Linked DNA regions of Homo sapiens: region 2 is linked to region 1. Evidence: fine-mapped expression QTL. A gene starts in region 1. The other region holds a variant in brackets. All regions are shown on one strand. Distances are between the middles of the regions.

Region 1 (5,375 bases):
GTGCCCGAGAAGCAGCAGCTGGCTTCAAAGACAAGCCCTTATCCTGGGCCTGAATGTGCAATTAATTGCACGTTAAGTGTTGGGCAGGGCATAGTCAGAAGGGCCAGTTAAATTATAGTTTTCTCACTCTTGAATATATGAGGCAGAAACTTGTAAGATCATCGTCACAGCAGATACAGGCACTTGGTAGCAACATGGAAAGATCTAGCCAGATAACAGAATTTATAACATTGCATGAGCTTCCGTGTAAAATGGGATTGTGTGGACCTAACAATTGGAGAGGCCATGACTCCAAATGTGAGTGGGGGCTCATGTTATTTTGTGACAGTCATTTCAGCGTGCAGCAAGTAGTCAGAAGTCTATCATTTGAGTTAGGCAGTCAACCATTGCCTTGTGTCTTTTTTGAAGTAAGGACTTTGTTGTAACTGGGTCTTGAGATGGCCCTTTGCATGTTCTGGTGAAGGCAGAAATGCAGGCCAGGAGCCAGACTTCCCACAAAGGAAAGAGTGGATCCTACACGCTGCAGACAAAAGGACAGAAAGTTCAGACTTGGCTAGGATAAGGGAAGGAGGATTAAGTTCCCACCACTATGACAATGAGGTTAGAAAAAGTATCGCCAGGCCGGGTGCGGTGGCTCATACCTGTAATCCCAGCACTTTGGGAGGCCGAGGCGGGTGGATCACGAGGTCAGGAGATCGATACCATCCTGGCTAACACGGTGAAACCCTGTCTCTACTAAAAATACAAAAAATTAGCCGGGCGTGGTGGCAGGCACCTGTAGTCCCAGCTACTCAGGAGGTTGAGGCAGGAGAATGGCGTGAACCCGGGAGGCGGAGCTTGCAGTGAGCCTAGATTGCGCCACTGCACTCCAGCCTGGGCAATAGAGCAAAAAACTCCGTCTCAAAAAAAAAAAAAAAAAAAGAAAAGAAAAAGAATTCCCAAATGACAATGACACAGGACATACACACAGTTCTGCTGACACCCGGCACTTTATTAGTGGGGAAACTCGCCTTGGTCTGGCAGAGACTGGGATCAACAGGACCAGCACCCATCTCGAGGTGGTATTTTCTGTAAGATCAGGTGTTCCTCCCTCGTAGGTTTAGAGGAAACACCCTCATAGATGAAAACCCCCCCGAGACAGCAGCACTGCAACTGCCAAGCAGCCGGGGTAGGAGGGGCGCCCTAGGCACAGCTGGGCCCTTGAGACAGCAGGGCTTCGATGTCAGGCTCGATGTCAATGGTCTGGAAGCGGCGGCTGTACCTGCGTAGGGGCACACCGTCAGGGCCCACCAGGAACTTCTCAAAGTTCCAGGCAACATCGTTGCGACACACCGGAGACCAGGTGATGAGCTTGGGGTCGGTCATAAGCGCGGTGGCGTCGTCGCTGGGAGCTGGCAGGGCCTCCCGCAGGAAGGCGAAGAGAGGGTGCGCCCCCGCACCGTTCACCTCGCACTTCTCGAAGAGCATGAAGTTGGGCTCGAACCCACCACCAGGCCGGACGTACTTGAGGGAATTCAGAATCTCTTCGTTCTTGGCGTTCTCCTACAGGAGAGAAGGGCAGCTAGAACCCGGGGTCAAGAGGAGGAGAGAAACGTTCTAACCACAAACAAGGGAGATTTTCTATGAGTCACCGGGATTTTGCCCTCCATGCGCAATCCCAAGGGCGGAGAGGAATTTCAGCAGCTACGAGCAACAGAAAGGAAACGAGAGAGTAGCCAGACTCTCCGCGCATGGAGCCGACGGCACCCACCAGCACACCGCCGGCGCCCCCAGCCACTACTGCACGTCCGCCCCCGCCCCGCCCCGCTCCGCCCGGCGCACCTGATGCCCAAACTGGTTGCACGGGAAGCCGAGCACCACCAGGCCCCGGGGTCCGAGGCGCCGCTGCAGCTCGTTCATCTGGGTGTAGTCCCGGACCGTGGTGCCTCAGAGGGACGCCACATTCTCGATAAGTAGTACCTTGCCCCGCAGGGAGCCCAGGCTCACAGGCTCCCCGCCGGCCAGCGGGCGCGCCGAGAAGGCATACACCGACTGGGCCGCCGCCGCCGCCGCCGCTAGCCGAGCAGCACACATGGCGCAATTGTCCAAGAAGCCAGCGGAGCGCCCCGAACAAGCACTGTAAGGGGAGGCCAGCAGGCGCCTCCTTTTAACTGGCCGGCGGCGGGTCACGTGGCACAGGCAGTTTTCCGGGCCTGAGGGTCCCGCCTCATCCGGCCCCCGCCCTACCCGGAGGGCTCGGCCCCTCCTCAGCCAGGAAAAGGCTGGAGAGTGCGCCCGAGCGGGACGCGTGCTCCTCCTAAGCCGGAAGGAGCAGCAGGCATGTCTGGTCTGGCCCAGGCAACCAGGCGGCAGCGGTCCAGGTTACCCTTCCAAGGGCTGGGGCCCTCGAGGGCTCCGTTTTTTCTCAGAGGTTCCTGAGTTAGGATGTGGGGTTTGGCATAGGAGGCTGGTGGGCGACGGCAGCAGCTGCAGGAGCTGCCCGTGCACAAACAGCCCTCCTCTCCTGTGCCATGTTACCGGCAGTGCAGGGGACAGCCAGAGGGATCTAGGCTTCCGGTCTCCCTCCTCCCTGTCTCCAAAGCGGCACCGCCCTCGTGCGGGTTTTCTAACCGGGCAGAGTCCTGGAAGCTCTGCCCCAGCCTCCTTAAGTGGAGCCCAGTAGCTCGCCGAGGCCAAGGAAACGCTGCCGGAGTCCTCCCTCCCTGGCCTCCTCAGGCTGCATTCACCCTACCCCCAAATCTGAACCAGAATGCGGTACAGGGTAATCATTTCCATGTTGTTGGGAGGGACCAGATTAGCTGCTGGGTGGGTGGGAGGTGGGGCACAAGCTAGTCCTTTGCACTCAACAAACCTCTCCAGGGTGAGCTAGGCCAGGAAGTCCTTGCATCCTCCTACCCCCAGCCCTGGAGAGAGCAACACAAACAACAGGATACAGGAAGTTTAGAAAACTGCCTTTATTCTATTAGTAGTTGGAAAAATTAACTGGTACAGAAAAAAAGTTTAGTCAGCTGGAGAGAAGAGAGACTGAGTGCCACCCATGAGAACTGGTGGCTCCTCTGGGAGGGAACCTGGATACAGTGAGGAGAAAAGAGCACTGTGAATTAGAGCCAGATGCTTAAGTCCAGGTGAGACAGGTTATGCCATCTTCCAAAGTGTCTAATTGCCTCAGGCGTGAAACCAATTCCTATTTACTTAGCCCAGCTCCATGGGGTACTGAGATACATGGGGCCGAAAAGGGGTAATATGGCCATCTTTTATCAGAAAAAGTGACAAAACGGGAATTTAAAAAATGAATTTTCCATCTGACTTTATTTCCAAATACACTTTCTTTTTTAAAAAACCAATACACTTTCTTTGAGGATGACAGTATTAGGAAATCCAATTATACAAAAAATACTACATCTAGTCTGGGGTAGATATATTTATTTTTGGTAACATACATTAAGTGGCACTAATTACACAGTAACTATAAGGTAACTAACATGAAACCACAGAACTGTAACTCTGCCACAGCTGCATGAACTTGGGCTTTTCTGGTTGAGCCCATTTTCAAAAAACTGCCCACCCCAGAGCTATGCCAACAAAATCTGTTACGGAGTAAAGCCCTGAAGTGGTGACTCACCAGAGTACCTTGCAGCTGACAGATAATAGGCAGGACATGTTAGTTATAAAGTAGTTACAGCCTAATTCACAAAAGTTACCAACTGTTTCTCTTTCTAGAAAGAAGCAAGAAGTTAAGAAATTCCTTGAATTAGCGCCTGGTGTGTCAGGTGGGAGTGCAGAGGAGGGCTGTTAGAGCAGTGTCAAAAGGACCCTGGTGGGCCAGACGGGTTGGACATCGTTAATAATCATAGTTGGCTTCTAAATACTGGTAGCAAGATGACTTCTGATTTGTAATCTTAGGTAAATTATAGATAAATGAAAAAGGCCAGTAATCATACACTAAGATTAATAAACAGCACTTCAAAATTAACCGCATAAGGGCTGTGCTTGCAGCAAGGTTTCACAAGACAAGGCACCCAGATTTTTTCTTCCCACGTCTAGCTTGCAGAGCAGCTCTCGTAGCCATTTCAAAAACCTCTCTCACTCCATCTTTGGTCTTTGCTGAACACTCCATGTACCCAAAAGCGCCAATCCTGTTTGCCATATCTCTGCCTTCTTCAGGTTTCACCGGCTCCTAGCAAAGAAAAAAAAATAGTCCTTTTAGCTAATAGTGTGGCATACATATAGTAAGTAAAAAGTATTCAAATTCATCTAAAAGATTTTTTTTTCTTTTTTTGAGACAGTTTTGCTCGTCGGTCGCCCAGGCTGGAGGGCAATGGCATGATCTCAGCTGACTGCAACCTCCACCTCCTGGGTTCAAGGGATTCTCCCGCCTCAGCCTCCCGAGTAGCTGGGACTACAGGTGCCCACCACCACGCCCAAGTAATTTTTTAGTAGAGATGGGGTTTCACCATTTTGGCCAGGCTGGTCTCGAACTCCTGACCAAGTGATCTGCCCACCTCGGCCTCCCAAAGTGCTGGGATACAGGCATGAGCCACTGTACCCAGCCTAAAAAAAAAAAAGACTTTCAAAAGCTGTTAAACTTGGCTGGGTGTGGTGGCTCACACCTGTAATCCCAGCACTTTGGGAGGCTGAGCTGGGCGGATCACGAGTTTAGGAGATCAAGACCATCCTGGCCAACATGGTGAAACCCCTCTTTACTAAAATACAAAAAATCACCTGGGTGTGGTAGTGGGCGCCTGTAACCCCAGCTACTCAGGAGGCTGAGGCAGGGGAATCGCTTAAATCTGGGAGGCGGAGGTTGCAGTTGAGCCAAGATCGTGCCACAGCACTCCAGCCTGGCGACACAGTGAGGCTCCTTCTCAAAAAAAACAAAACAAAAAAAAAAAACAACAAACTGCTAAACTTATGAAATTTTTAAACTGACATATGGTAACTACCCCCTACCAAACATAAAATCTCTAATAAACATGGTATTCACTGGGAAGTAGAGGGAAGAGGTCAGAGGAGCCCTGGAAGGTTAAGGAGTCAATCAAGAGCAAAATTACTCAAGCTACCAATCCAGGACTAAATGCCCTGAAGGAAATAAAGCCTACCCTTGACATTCAGACAGAGAAACCTGAGTAAGAGAACTTAGGTTGAAGATCTCAATGCTTCTCCTCCAGTGAGGAAGCCCTGCCATTAGGCCAGCTGGTTTCTGAGAGGCCAAGATGCCACATCCATCATCACTTTTAAAAAGGCATTGGGAGTGGAGGAGAGGGAAGGCATTAGGGCTTTCTATCTGGACTCCCAGCCTTCAAGATTTCCTTATCTTTCAGTTGCCACTAATTTATCTTTGGCCTCACATGTACCAAAGTAATAGCTGGGGAAGG
Region 2 (5,375 bases), 41 kb after region 1:
TGAACCTTTAAAACATTGCATAAATGAAAGAAGCCAGTCACAAAAGACAATATATGATTCCATTACACGAAATATCCAGAATAGGCAAATCTATAGAGACACAAAGTAGATTAGTGGTTACCTAAGGCTGGGCGTGGTGATAGGGAGATTGAAGATGACAGTTGAAGAACATAGGGTTTCTTTTTGAGGTGATAATAATGTTCTAAAATTGACTGTAGTGATACACGTAAAACTCTGTGAATATACTAAAACCCACCAAACTGTTCATTTCAAATGAATGGTGTGATATATGAATTATATCTCAGTAAAATTGTTACCAAAAGAGTTGGTTTTTGTTTTTTTAAAAAAAATAAGCGTTGAAAGTATGGCAGAGACTGCCTGCTTATCTGCCTCAATAGCTTTCCCCTTCATAGTCACATGGCTGCCAGTTATAAAGACTACATTTCCCAGCATTCACTGCAGCTAGGTGGGGTATTAAGATCTGACCAACAGACTGTATGCAGAAAATGATGATGCAGGAGAGCAGAGAACTGCTAGAGCAACATTACGAGATTAGAGGGGAACGAGATTTCGCTTGCAAGTGGAAGGGCTGACCTTAGATAGAACAATGGACTCCCAAGGGACTGATCCACAGGAATAGAAAAATAAGTAAGAAGCAAGATCATAACAGCTGATAGAGGCAAGGAAAGGGAACAGGAGATTTGAGCCAAAGGACATGGTGCTATATTATCCTAAAAGCAGGAGAATAAACGGACTAAGGAATCTTAGCGGGACTGCTAGGCAGTGCTAAAAGCAGCCACCTTTGAGGTCAAGGGTCCATGAGTTCAAAGAGAGACAAGTCAGTGAATTTTTTCTTTCGCTACATTCAGTCAAAAGCACAGAATAGGTAAAGAGTAGGATTTAGGCTAGGCGTGGTGGCTCACACCTATAGTCCCAGCACTTTGGGAGGCTGAGGTGGGCAGATCACTTGAGGTCAGGAGTTTGAGACCACCCCGGCCAACACGGTGAAACCCCATCTCTACTAAAGTAGCCAAGTGTGGTGGCGCGCTCCTGTGGTCCCATCTACTCAGGAGGCTGAGACACGAGAATTGCTTGAACCCAGAAGGCGGAGGTTGCTGTGAGCCTTGAGATCGCACCACTGCACTCCACCCTGGGTAACAGAGCAAGACTTTGTCAAAAAAAAAAAGTAAGATCTAAACCAGGGCTGAGATTTTGCCAGGTAACATAAAATGAGAGACAGAACAAGAAATGGAGAATACATAAAAGGGGGTAATTACAGTGATAAACTAAAGGTAAGGAGCAGTGAAAGGGTAGGCAGTAGCATCAATAGATGTTAAGCCCCAGTGGGGGCTTAAAGAATTTTGCTGGCAGGGCGCGGTGGCTCACGCCTGTAATCCCAGCACTTTGGGAGGCCAAGGCGGGTGGATCACGAGGTCAGGAGATCGAGACCATCCTGGCTAAAACACCATGAAACCCCGTCTCTACTAAAAGAAAAAAAAAAAGAAATACAAAAAATTAGCTGGTCGTGGTGGCGGGCACCTGTAGTCCTAGCTACTCTGGAGGCTGAGGCAGGAGAACGGCGTGAACCCGGGAGGCAGAGCTTGCAGTGAGCCGAGATTATGCCACTGCACTCCAGCCTGAGCGACACAGCGAGACTCCGTCTCAAAAAAAAAAAAAAAAAAAAAAAAAAAAAAAAGAATTTTGCTGTCTGAGTATTACAGTATTATTACAGGGCTTTAATACTGGTGGCTCACGCCTGTAATCCCAGTTATTTGGGAGACTGAGACAGGAGAATTGCTGCCTCGGGAGGCAGAGGTTGCAGTTAGCTGAGACTGTGCCACTGCACTCCAGCCTGCGTGACAGAGCAAGACTCCGTCTCAAAAAAAAAAAAAAAAAAAAAAAAAAAAAAAAAGGCTGGGCACGGTGGCTCATGCCTGTAATCCCAGCACTCTGGGAGGCCGAGGCAGGCAGATCACGAGGTCAGGAGATCAAGACCACCCTGGCTGACACAGTGAAACCCCGTCTCTACTAAAAACTACAAAAACTTAGCTGGGCGTGGCGGCGGGCACCTGTAGTCCCAGCTACTCGGGAGGCTGAGGCAAGAGAATGACGTGAACCTGGGAGGCGGAGCTTGCAGTGAGCCGAGATCGCACCACTGCACTGCAGCCTGGGCGACAGAGCGAGACTCTGTCTCAAAAAAAAAAAAAGTGTGTTAACAAATGATCTCTGAGACAAGATTATTAAATGAAAAAAGTGATGTGCCAAATATGTCATATGCTATCATACCATAGTGTAATGGCGGGATACATAGATATACAAAACAGGGCTTGACAGAGGTGTACAATATTCACCAATAGACACTGGTATATGTATAGACTGTCTCTAGAATAGTACACAGGAG[C/CT]TTTTTTTTTTTTTTCCCCCAGAAAGGGTCTTGCTTTGTCACTCAGGCTGCAGTGCTGGAGTGCAGTGGAGTGATCATGACTCACTGCGGCCTAGAACTCCTGGGCTCCCCTCAGCTGCCCCAAGTGCTGGGATTACATGCACTGGTCTACAAGAAACACAACAGGTACCTCTAGGGGCCATATATCCTTTTGCACTGTTTGAATTTACCAAATAAAACTATTATGTTTTCGAACAAGATAAATTTTTAAATGTAGGGACTTTAAAAGATTTATATAGTAGATTACATCAAGGGGGTAAGAAATAAAGCAATACATATGCAAAAATCCATCTTGGAATCTGAACTCAAGAAACTACAGAAACGGCTGGGCACGGTGGCTCACGCCTGTAATCCCAGCACGTTGGGAGGCCGAGGTGGGCGAATCAGGAGTTCGAGACCAGCCTGACCAACAAGGTGAAACCCGTCTCTACTAAAAATACAAAAAAATTAGCTGGGCATGGTGGCACGTGCTTGTAATCCCAGCTACTCGGGAGGCTGAGGCAGGAGAATCGCTTGAACCCGGGAGGCGGAGCTTGCAGTGAGCCGAGACCGCGCCACTGCACTCCAGCCTGGGTGACAGAGCGAGACTCCATCTCAAAAAAAAAAAAAAACAAAAAAAACGAAACTACAGAAGCATACTGCCCCCCTCTCCCCCAACATCTTCCCTAGTCTAACCAAAACTGGCCACCCCCCACCACCTCCTGTTTCTATAAGGAGATAAAACAAGATTATCTGTGTTCAGGCCAAGGGTTGATTCCCACTACTCATAACATTTCCCCTAAACCTCATTTTAAAGGCCAAGAGTTACACCCTCACCACCAGAGGCCTCAGTGGCTTCCTGGCTACTCTAAATTCTTCTTTATCCCTGAACTCCTACAGCACTTCGTCTTTCAGTGCTGTTTCATGCCTATGTGAGCTTGAATCACTGAATACTTTGTTCTGGTACAGAGAAGACTGTATCAGGACTTGGTGCCATGCGTCTGTAATCCTAGCTACTCAGGAGGCTGAGGTAGCTGGATCCCTTGAGCCCAGGAGTTCAAGGCTGCAGTGAGCTATGATCATGCCACTGCACTCCAGCCTGGGTGACAGAGCAAGATTGTAGCCAAAAAGGTGAGGTGGGGGGATGGTATATAAAAGGGTTAATTTCCAGCCGGGCACGGTGGCTCACGCCTGTAATTCCAGCACTTTGGGAGGCCGAGGCGGGCGGATCACGAGGTCAGGAGATCAAGACCATCCTGGCTAACACGGTGAAATCCCGTCTCTACTAAAAATACAAAAAAATTAGCCGGGCATAGTGGCGGGCGCCTGTAGTCCCAGCTATTCGGGAGGCTGAGGCAGGAGAATGGCGTGAACCCGGGAGGCAGAACTTGCAGTGAGCTGAGATTGCACCACTGCACTCCAGCCTGGGCGACAGAGACTCCGTCTCAAAAAAAAAAAAAAAAAAAAGAGTTAATTTCCTACCTTTTAGAAAGGAAACTTTCAAAAGCCCAAATTACTAATATTAGACACTAGGGCCTTCAAATTTACTTCCTCTAAGTTACTACCCTTCTTTTCTGAATTGACCTTAGGAAGTTACTTCTTTCCAAACAAGACCTACAAGTAACAACGCATAGTATGTAAAACTCCTGACCAGGTGTGGTGGCTCACAACTGCAATCCCAGCACTTTGGGAGGCAGGAGGACTGCTTGAAGCCAAGAGGTGGAGACCAGTCTGGGCAATACAGTGAGACCTCATCTCTCAAAAAAATATGAAAACGGACAGGCAAGGTAGCTTATGCCTATAATCCCAGCACTTTGGGAGGCCATGGCGGATGGATCACTTGAGCCCAAGAGTTTGACACCAGCCTGGGCAACATGGCGAAACCTCTGGGAGGCAAAGGTTGCAGTGAGTGGAGATCGGGCCACTGCACTCCAGCCTGGGCGACAAGAATGAAACTCTGTCTCAAAAAAAAAAAAAAAAAATTGGGGAAATGAAGTTGAAAACATAGAGCTGTTTATTTTGTTTACTGACTGCATGGGAAATTCCTGATGAAAGGGCCAAACTACCATCCATCCATCTGTCCATAATGAACTTGAGCCTGGTATAGGTTGAGTACTGCTTATCCAAAATGCTTGGGCCCAGAAGTGTTTCAGATTTCAGAATTTCTTCAGATTTTGGAATATCTGCATTATACTTACTGGTTCAGTATCCCAAATCCAAAAATTGAAAGTCTGAAAGGCACCACTAGGCATTTCCTTTGAATGTCATGCCAGCGCCCATCTTGAAGCATTTCAGATGCTCAACCTGTACTGCCATTATTTGGCCATCCTGATCAAGTGGCTGCCAAGCTCTTAGTTCAAGAGCTTTCCTTTCTGTAGCAGTAAGGGCACTTGGAGATCAAGAGCAGCAGGAATAAGGCACATGGTGGTAAGCAATGAAGAAAACCTTCAATTTACTGCCAAGTGAAAATCACTTCAAACTCAAGTTCTTTGGGGAAAGACAGGCAAGGAACAATCCCTGAGGTAACATACCGTCAAGTTTCCTAAATAAGAGCATGAAATCATTTATCTCAAAATGTAAATATTATAAGGTTAACCTTCAATGGATGCACAGAATCAGGATTTGACTTTGTTTGGCCTAATTCCAAACTTACATTGCCTCTAAGACAATGCGTATCTAGTAAAACTGACAAAGAAAAATGAACCATTAGGTACCTCCCAGTGAGCTGGCTAAGAATTTATATATGCTTATTGTAAACCTTATTGCAGGAGTTTACTTTTACCAAGTATATATATTTCTTAAAATAAAAAACTAGGCCGGGTGCAGTGGTTCACACCTATAATCCCACCACTTTGCGAGGCCAGAGCTCAGGAGTTAGAGACCAGCCTGGACAACATGGCAAAACGTCATCTCTATAAAAATTAAATTAATTAACTAGGTATGGTGGTGCTTGCCT

Which allele goes with the higher level. Alleles are on the strand shown, and positions count from the first base shown. SD is a standard deviation of normalised expression in the study named.
As copies of CT replace C in region 2, the expression in prefrontal cortex of the gene that starts at base 2,148 in region 1 goes up (moderate effect, 0.54 SD a copy in BrainSeq).

Evidence for each region. PIP is the estimated chance that this variant, and not a neighbour inherited with it, causes the effect.
Region 2: its variant is the best candidate, but not a certain one, in a credible set for the expression of GPX1 in prefrontal cortex (BrainSeq, PIP 0.58).

What each region holds. Positions count from the first base shown.
Region 1 is chr3:49,356,206-49,361,580 of GRCh38, forward strand. It overlaps GPX1 (glutathione peroxidase 1), which reads right to left and starts at 2,148. Exons shown (of 2, transcript NM_000581.4): 1 at 1,822-2,148; 2 at 971-1,542. The coding sequence starts at 2,073. The coding sequence ends at 1,183. RHOA (ras homolog family member A) reads right to left here. Exons shown (of 5, transcript NM_001664.4): 5 at 2,940-4,177. The coding sequence ends at 4,004. RefSeq lists enhancers at 1,824-2,432, 2,341-2,670, 2,433-3,041 and a silencer at 2,121-2,180.
Region 2 is chr3:49,397,176-49,402,550 of GRCh38, forward strand. The region is part of intron 1 of RHOA (ras homolog family member A); the gene reads right to left. Among named protein-coding and RNA genes, the nearest start is that of RHOA, 12 kb to the right of the region's middle. The variant C/CT (reference allele first, on the strand shown) is at 2,402.